2 linked regions of the Homo sapiens genome follow. The protein of the gene in region 2 interacts with the protein of the main gene of each other region in a pairwise test. Each region holds a gene or a part of one and is shown on either strand. Other genes may lie near its edges. The genes, in order: AKAP5 and ROPN1L.

Region 1 (3,572 bases), on a different chromosome or scaffold from region 2:
AACAAATACCTTACATCTCATACTTCATCTTTATTACTTCATCTGTTTCAAGTAGTAACACAATCACTCAATTTACACAATGGGGGAATACACACTTTGAATCCTAACCTGTGAGGTAGGGAAGTGCACTCTGGTATTATGGCCATTTCACACAAGGAAAGATTGAAATAGGATTACTTTTTCAAAAAATATGGCAATCATTGATGAGATCAGATGCTTCCCTTTCAATATGTAAATAAAAATGCAAATAAGCCCTTCTCATTTTTGTAAAGTATATCTGGATTGAAAATAGTGATGAAGGCCGGGTGCGGTGGCTCATGCCTGTAATCCCAGCACTTTAGGAGGCCGAGGCGGGAGGATCATGAGGTCAGGAGATCAAGACCATCCTGGCTAACACGGTGAAACCCCATCTCTACTAAAAATACAAAAAATTAGCCGAGCGTTGTAGTGGGCGCCTGTAGTCCCAGCTACTTGGGAGGCTGAGGCAGAAGAATGGTGTGAACCCAGGAGGTGGAGCTTGCAGTGAGCCAAGATCGCGCCACTGCACTCCAGCCTGGGCGACAGAGTGAGACTCCATCTCAAAAAAAAAAAAAAAAGAAAAGAAAATAGTGATGAAAAAGTTAACTTTCAATATTCATGTAAAATGCTTTTTACTGGTCTCAACACACAGACATGAAGGAATACTGACATTTAAATTATAATGTGCTTTAGCAATAACTTTTCACTTTTCTATTCACCCACATTCATGGCTCATTTTTGGCCGAGAATAAATATTTGCACTAGATTATTAGGATTTTCCAGGACCATTACTACCAGGCTGGCTTTGAATCTACTCTCCCCTCTTTGGAGAGAAGTTGATGAATATGGCTCTTAAAGAAGTAATTCTGCAAGATGAATCCTATATTATCTGTGATAATTTACTTGGGAATTTTCCCTTCTCCTGGATGAAGAATAATATTCCCCTTGTTTTGTTTTTGCTGTTTCATTTTTTAACTTTTCACAGATAAATCCATGCAGAAATGGATATATACAGATCTGTTGAGGCAGAAAGAAAAGCGGGGGAAAAACCCACTCTCCCTGTTTCTACACTTTTGCACTTAGTAACAATTTGCCTGATTGAAGGATTTGTGAATGGTTCTCTTTTTTTTTTTTTTTTTTTTTGAGAAGGAGTCTCGCTCTGTTGCCCAGACTGGAGTGCAGTGGTGCAATCTTGGCTCCCTGCAACCTCCACCTCTCGGGTTCAAGCAATTCTCCTGCCTCAGCCTCCCAAGTAGCTGGGATTACAGGCGTGCACCACCACGCCCAGCTAATTTTTGTATTTTCAGTAGAGATGGGGTTTCACCACATTGGCCAGGCTGGTCTCGAACTCCTGACCTTAGCTGATCCACCCGCCTTGGCCTCCCAAAGTGCTGGGATTATAGGCGTGAGCCACTGCCCCTGGCCAAATAGCGCTTATAAGAGACTTAAGACTAGGAAACCACTCACGTTTAATATCAATATGCATATTCTGCACACTATCTGCTGAAATTGGGAAAATGCAATGTATTTTTTGAGTTAAGCCTGCTGCTTAGGAATGTAACAATTACAAATCACATTCACAAAAGTAGCTCACCTTATTCACCATTTTAAACATATATGTGCACTGTAAAAAATAAGTTTTTAAAAACTTAATGTGATGTTAGCCTATACACAGAGCTGAATTATCAAAAGGAAACCAGACTTTGTTATATCAGAGGTCATTAAAAAGCTTATGGCATACCATAAGTGCTCAATAAATACACCTTCCTCCCCCAAAGCACTCCAATCTCCATATGCCATTTTAGCAACTCCCTGTATGTTATGTCATTTTACACTGCAATCTGTGCTGACTTCCTCCAATCCAGAAGTGACTGCATTTCAGTGGTAGAGTTTTATAAACTTGACTTAATCTTTAGCACTTCTGCGCTGGAATTGTACCTTTTAAGTTCTAGAGATGATAAATCTCTCATTTGTTACTGAGTAAGAAATGCCACAAATGTATAAAAGAATTCTTCATTAAGCTTGTTTTTTCTGCCGTGACTCTGGAGAGTAAGTCACTGTAGAAGATTGTTTATTTTATTATCATCAGAGGCCATTTCATTAACCAGCTGTTCTATTGACAACTGAATAGCATTCTTGACTAGAGAAGAGGCTGTTTCAATTAAGAGTGTTTCATATTGTTCTGAAGTTCTATCCTCAAAACCATTATCATTAGCAAAAACCCCTACTTGCTCATTTTCAGCTGAAATTAAGAATTGCTTAGGGACATTTTTAGATTTTGTAACATCAAATTCACTGATTTCAGTGTCTGTAATAATAATAGCAATTGGCTCCATTCTTTTGCTTTCTTCTGATTTGGATTTCTCTTCAGTGATCCCATTTTCTTTAAAATCTGATTCTTGGCTCAATTCAGTATCTTTTGGCTTAGTTTCTTCAGCTACAATCTCTGTACTTTCATAGTCTTTTCCATTTGGTGCACTTTCTAGGGTACTGTTACTGGCTTCTTCCACAATTTGTTGATCTGGAATTGCAGGTAAAGGAGGAACATCAGAAAGTACTGGCTGCTGATGGTCTGTTTCTGAAGTTTCAAGTGGGCTTGCTTGCTGGGGTTGAACATCTTGTTTTTCCTTGATCGTTTCAATTTCTTCAAGGATTAGAGTTCCCGTTTGAATAGCAGAATGCCCATTATCTAATCCAAGTTCTACTGAAATCACTTTCTCTCCAGAAGTTGTGCTATTGCTCACATTTGATTCACAGACCTCATCACCATCTTTCCGTGAGATGCCTTCACTTAGATCCTGGGTTGACTTAGCCTTTGTTGCCTGATCATTCAATGGGGTCTGTGTTTGTATATCCAAAATTTCAGCTTCTTCCTGGACTTTGATGCTGCAGTCTGAGTCTTCTATAATTTTGGAATGATTACTCCTTTTTGGCCCTCTTGGGAATTTTATGCAGGGAATCTTAAGTCTAGATTTTGCCTTTTTCTTAGAAAGATCAGCATCCTCAGCATTTATTGCAGGTTGCATTTCACCCTCCAATGGCTTTTGCTGCTTTGAAGACTCTGACCTTTTCCTGCGTGTTACAAGACGTTTGAGTGAGGCCCAGGCCCCCCGTGTGGGCTCTGGCTGATCAGAAGCTCCTGCTTCTTGTGGACACTTCCTTGCCACATCAGCAGCTTCAGAGCCAGCTTTGGGCTTCAGTGCTTTGGCTGCTTTCTTTCTTCTCTTGAAGCAAAGCATGGATGCCTTTTCCTTCTGCCTTTCAGCCCCAGGACTACCTTCTGCTGATCTCTTCTCATCCTTGTTTTCTACATGAATTTCTGAAATTGTGGTTTCCATTTTTACACTGCACTCTTATTCTCTAGAAAACTGTATTCTCTCTTCCTTAGCAGCCTTTTGTGACAAAAAGATGAGCAAAAATGTCACACTAGGTAAAATTTCTTCCAGGCATATTCATACCTTTCATCTTACTCCATACAGTTGTTTTAGGTGGTTTCTCTAGTATAGAAATGCCCAGTTTCTCTATGGCTTGTAATTTCTCTCTTTAATTTCTTG
Region 2 (3,820 bases):
CTAAAAATACAAAAATTAGCTTGGTGTGGTGGCACGCATCTGTAGTCCCAGTTACATGGGAGGCTGAGGCAGGAGAATTGTTTGAAACCGGGAAGCAGAGGTTGCAGTGAGCCAAGATCGTGCCACTGCACTCCAGCCTGGATGATAGAGCAAGACTCCATCATAAAAATAAATAAATAAATAAGAGACTTAATCAGGAACTTTCCGAATGTACCATGCTACTAATTTCTCTCAAGAGCCATTTATTTATTTATTTTTTAGATAGAGTCTTTTTCTGTGGCCCAGGCTGGAGTGCACTGGTGCTATCTAGGCTCACGGCAACCTCTGCCTCCTGGTTCAAGCAATTCTGCCTTAGCTTCCCAAGTAGCTGGGATTACAGGTGCGTGCCACCACGCCCAGCTAATTTTTGTATTTTTAGTAGAGACGGGGGTTTCACCATGTTGGCCACGCTGGTCTGGAACTCCTGACCTCAAGTAATCTGCCCTCCTGGCCTCCCAAAGTGGTGGGATTATAGGCTTGAGCCACCGCGCCTGACCAAGAACAATTTGTGAGTTTAGGAGAAAACCCAGGTATTATTCATTCGGCAGTATATATGTAATTGTAGGTTCAAATATGTTTCAGCTGTCACAGGACAGAATCTGTTAGGGAGAGCTATTCAAAAGTAACTTGAGTAAGGCGGGACTTGGTAAGTGCAAAAATGAAGGGTCACGAAAGTTAAGCAAAGTAGTGGCTTGGTCCTTGAGAGATTTTGTAGGCAGAGAGATTGGGGCTTGGGTGGGGTGGAGAGGATTCCAGGAAGAGGAAGCAGCACAGGAAGAAGGGGGTGGAGACAGGAAAAAGAAAAACCATCAAAACCAAAACAGGAAACCAGGATACCCACGGACATAACTGCTATAGAACAAGCAAGTAGGCTGAGCACGGTGGCTCACACCTGTAATCCCTACATTTTGGGAGGACGAGGCGGACAGGTTACTTGAGCTCAGGAGCTCGAGACCAGCCTGCACAACGTGGCAAGACCTTGTCTGTACTAAAAATAAAATTAGCCGGCCATGGTGATGCATGTCTGTAATCCCAGCTATTCAGGATGCTGAGGCAGAAGGATCACTTGAGCCCAGGAGTTGGAGGCTTCAGTGAGCCATGTTCACAACACTCTACTCCAGCCTGGGTGACAGAGCAAGAGCCTGTCTAAAAAAGAAAAAACAAACAAACAAAAAAGATGAAGCAAGTAGGCATTCCTCTTTCCTCAGGTTAGGGTTCTTTTCAAAGGTGCTTTTCAGGTGGGCAAATATCAAAGATGAGCCAGCCTCCCCCTAAGCCTGTGGACTCCACTGTGAGGGGAGTCGGCTGTTCCTTATGACACCATTGTGCAGTTGTGCCTCACACAGGACAATGAACATAAGAATCAGTCAAGTAATAGAGGCTGCTTTGGTTGGCGTGTGCCTCAAGGAACTGGCAGAGGCTAACATTAGTTGGTCTCACCTCAAAAGCAGGCATTTCCAGCCTCGGCCCTACTGACAGTTGGGGAGGGCACAGGAGGAAGGGGCATCTTGTGCATGATGGGACTTAGCAGCCTCCTGGCCTGCACCCACTGGATGCCTGGAGTACCATCCACCCTCTGTTGTGACAATCAAAAATGTCTCCAGGCCGGGTGCGGTGGCTCACGCCTGTAATCCTAGCATTTTGGGAGGCTGAGGCGGGTTGATTGTCTGAGCTCAGGAGTTTGAGACCACCCTGGGGGCAACATGGTGAAACCCCGTCTCTAATAAAATATAAAAAATCAGCTGGGCTTGGTGATGCACATGTGTAATCCCAGCTACTCAGGAGGCTGAGGCCGGAGAATAGCTTGAACCTGGGAGGTGGAGGTTGCAATGAGCTGAGATGGCGCTACTGCACTCCAGCCTAGGCCACAGAACGAGACTCTATCTCAAAAAAAAAAAAGCGTCTCCAGAAATTGCCAAATGCCTTTTGGCTGGGGAGGAGGGTGGCGGGTGGGGGAAAGAGGAGGAGCATTATCCCCCACTGAGAACTCTGCCTCCAGAGGCTGTATCTAGCTCGGGATTCCTTGCCTGAGTTATGAGGAGTTACCCCCATGAAATAGGTGAAAACCTTGATTAGTAGGAATGTGGCAAAACGAGGCACCTATTCTTCACCCACACCCTTTAGGTCTTTAGGTTCACATTTGTCTAACTCACTGCTGCCTTCAAATCATTAACAAAGCCACAAAATGGAGCTGAAGTTGTCTTACAAAGCAAGGAAACAAAGTCAAATTTGAGGGGTGTAAAGAGAGAGAAAGGATGAGATATGAAGTTTATTTTAGTCTATCAGATATCGACTTATCCATATTTATCTGTAGCAATGTTTCTAACTACCCATGGCTTTAAAATTGTTATCTGTGGCCCTGGTGGATGCTTTGATGTTCATTTGCCTGGATATGCTGTCTCTTTTCATCATGCTAAAGTCATTAGGGCCCCAAATGATGTGGCTTCAGCATCGCCACCTCTGGCAAAGATACCAAGGGGCGTGAGTTTCTCAGAAGGTCTTGCCTGGCACCCCTCCCACCACGAGCCAGAGGCTGGGTGTGGGTTCCCTCTTGACTTATTGCCCCAACAGTTTCCCACTCTTGCCCCCAACATAAGCAGCAATATCAGTGTCCCAGAAAGGAACAATTAAGGGGAACAATACCAGGCAGGAAAAGTGGGGGTGGGGGGATGGGAGCCAGGCCAGCACCTGCCATTCCCAGTGTGGAAGTAGGTGACCTGTGTGTTCCTGGGCTGCCTCAGGGTTGAATATGCAGAGACGCTTAAAGTCAAGCACCTCAAAAAGCAGCAAGACCAAACCCACCTGTCAAAAGTGGGAAGACGGCCAGGCACAGTGGCTCACGCCTATAATCCCAGCACTTTGGGAGGCCAAGCTGGGAGGATCACTTGAGGCCAGGAGTTCCAGACCAGCATGGGCAATGGAACAAGACCACATCTCTGTAAGAAATAATTAAAAAGATTAGCCAGGTGTGGTGGTGTGTGCCTGTAGTCCCAGCTACTCAGGAGGCTGAGGCGGGAGGATCCCTTGAGCTTGGGAGGTTGAGGCTACAGTGAGCCATGATTATGCCACTGCACTCCAGCCTGGGTGACAGAGTGAGACCCTGTCTCAAAAAATTTAGGAAAAAAAAAGAAAGAATAATACATGGAACTCCAGCTGATTGTGAAGTGGCAGGGAGGAGGGGAAGAATCACACATGTTGAAGGAGCTTCTGCGAGTGCCAGCCACTGCGCCAAGCCCTTCTCACACAATGCTCCCCAACCCTCCAACAGGGAGTCTCATTATCCCCTTTGCCAACAGAGAAACTAAGGCAGGCAGAGAAGGTTAAGTCAGAGAACCAAGTGGAGGAACCAGGACATAAGCCCGGGATGTTGGTCTTCAGAGCTGTCCTTCCTAATCACCGTTGTTTTGGGGGGTTATTTAAGAAATTGGATCGCATAGCTGTTTTTTGTGTATTGATGAGCTTTCAGAGATGTCTGTTATTTATTAGCTATTTTTCAGCTCTGTCGAGAGGAGATCCACTTCCTGTAAAGGACAGAATGGAAATGCCCACGGCAACCCAGAAAACAGACACAGGCCTGACTCAAGGACTCCTGAAAGTTTTGCACAAGCAGGTATGGGGGGGCGTAGTCTCTGGCCTCAGGCAGCTGGCCTGTGCTTTCCTTACCGTTCACTGTGCATTGATGACAGAGCGGGGCACACCCCAGCAATGTATTTCAAACCTCCTGAGGTCCCTGAAATCCTGCTTTCCCTGCCACGCATCGTCAAGGTTGATTCAAGGAAGA

Evidence for each region.
Region 1: the proteins of ROPN1L (region 2) and AKAP5 interact in binary tests that used the Homo sapiens proteins (3 or more experiments, as listed by UniProt).

Annotation. Positions count from the first base shown.
Region 1 is NC_000014.9:64,468,179-64,471,750, reverse strand, and holds part of AKAP5 (A-kinase anchor protein 5), read right to left. Parts: 5' UTR 3,357-3,572; coding exon 2,073-3,356; 3' UTR 1-2,072. UniProt on the Homo sapiens protein: Multivalent scaffold protein that anchors the cAMP-dependent protein kinase/PKA to cytoskeletal and/or organelle-associated proteins, targeting the signal carried by cAMP to specific intracellular effectors.
Region 2 is NC_000005.10:10,444,735-10,448,554, forward strand, and holds part of ROPN1L (ropporin-1-like protein), read left to right. Parts: intron 1-3,525; coding exon 3,526-3,649; intron 3,650-3,820. UniProt on the Homo sapiens protein: Functions as part of axonemal radial spoke complexes that play an important part in the motility of sperm and cilia. Important for male fertility.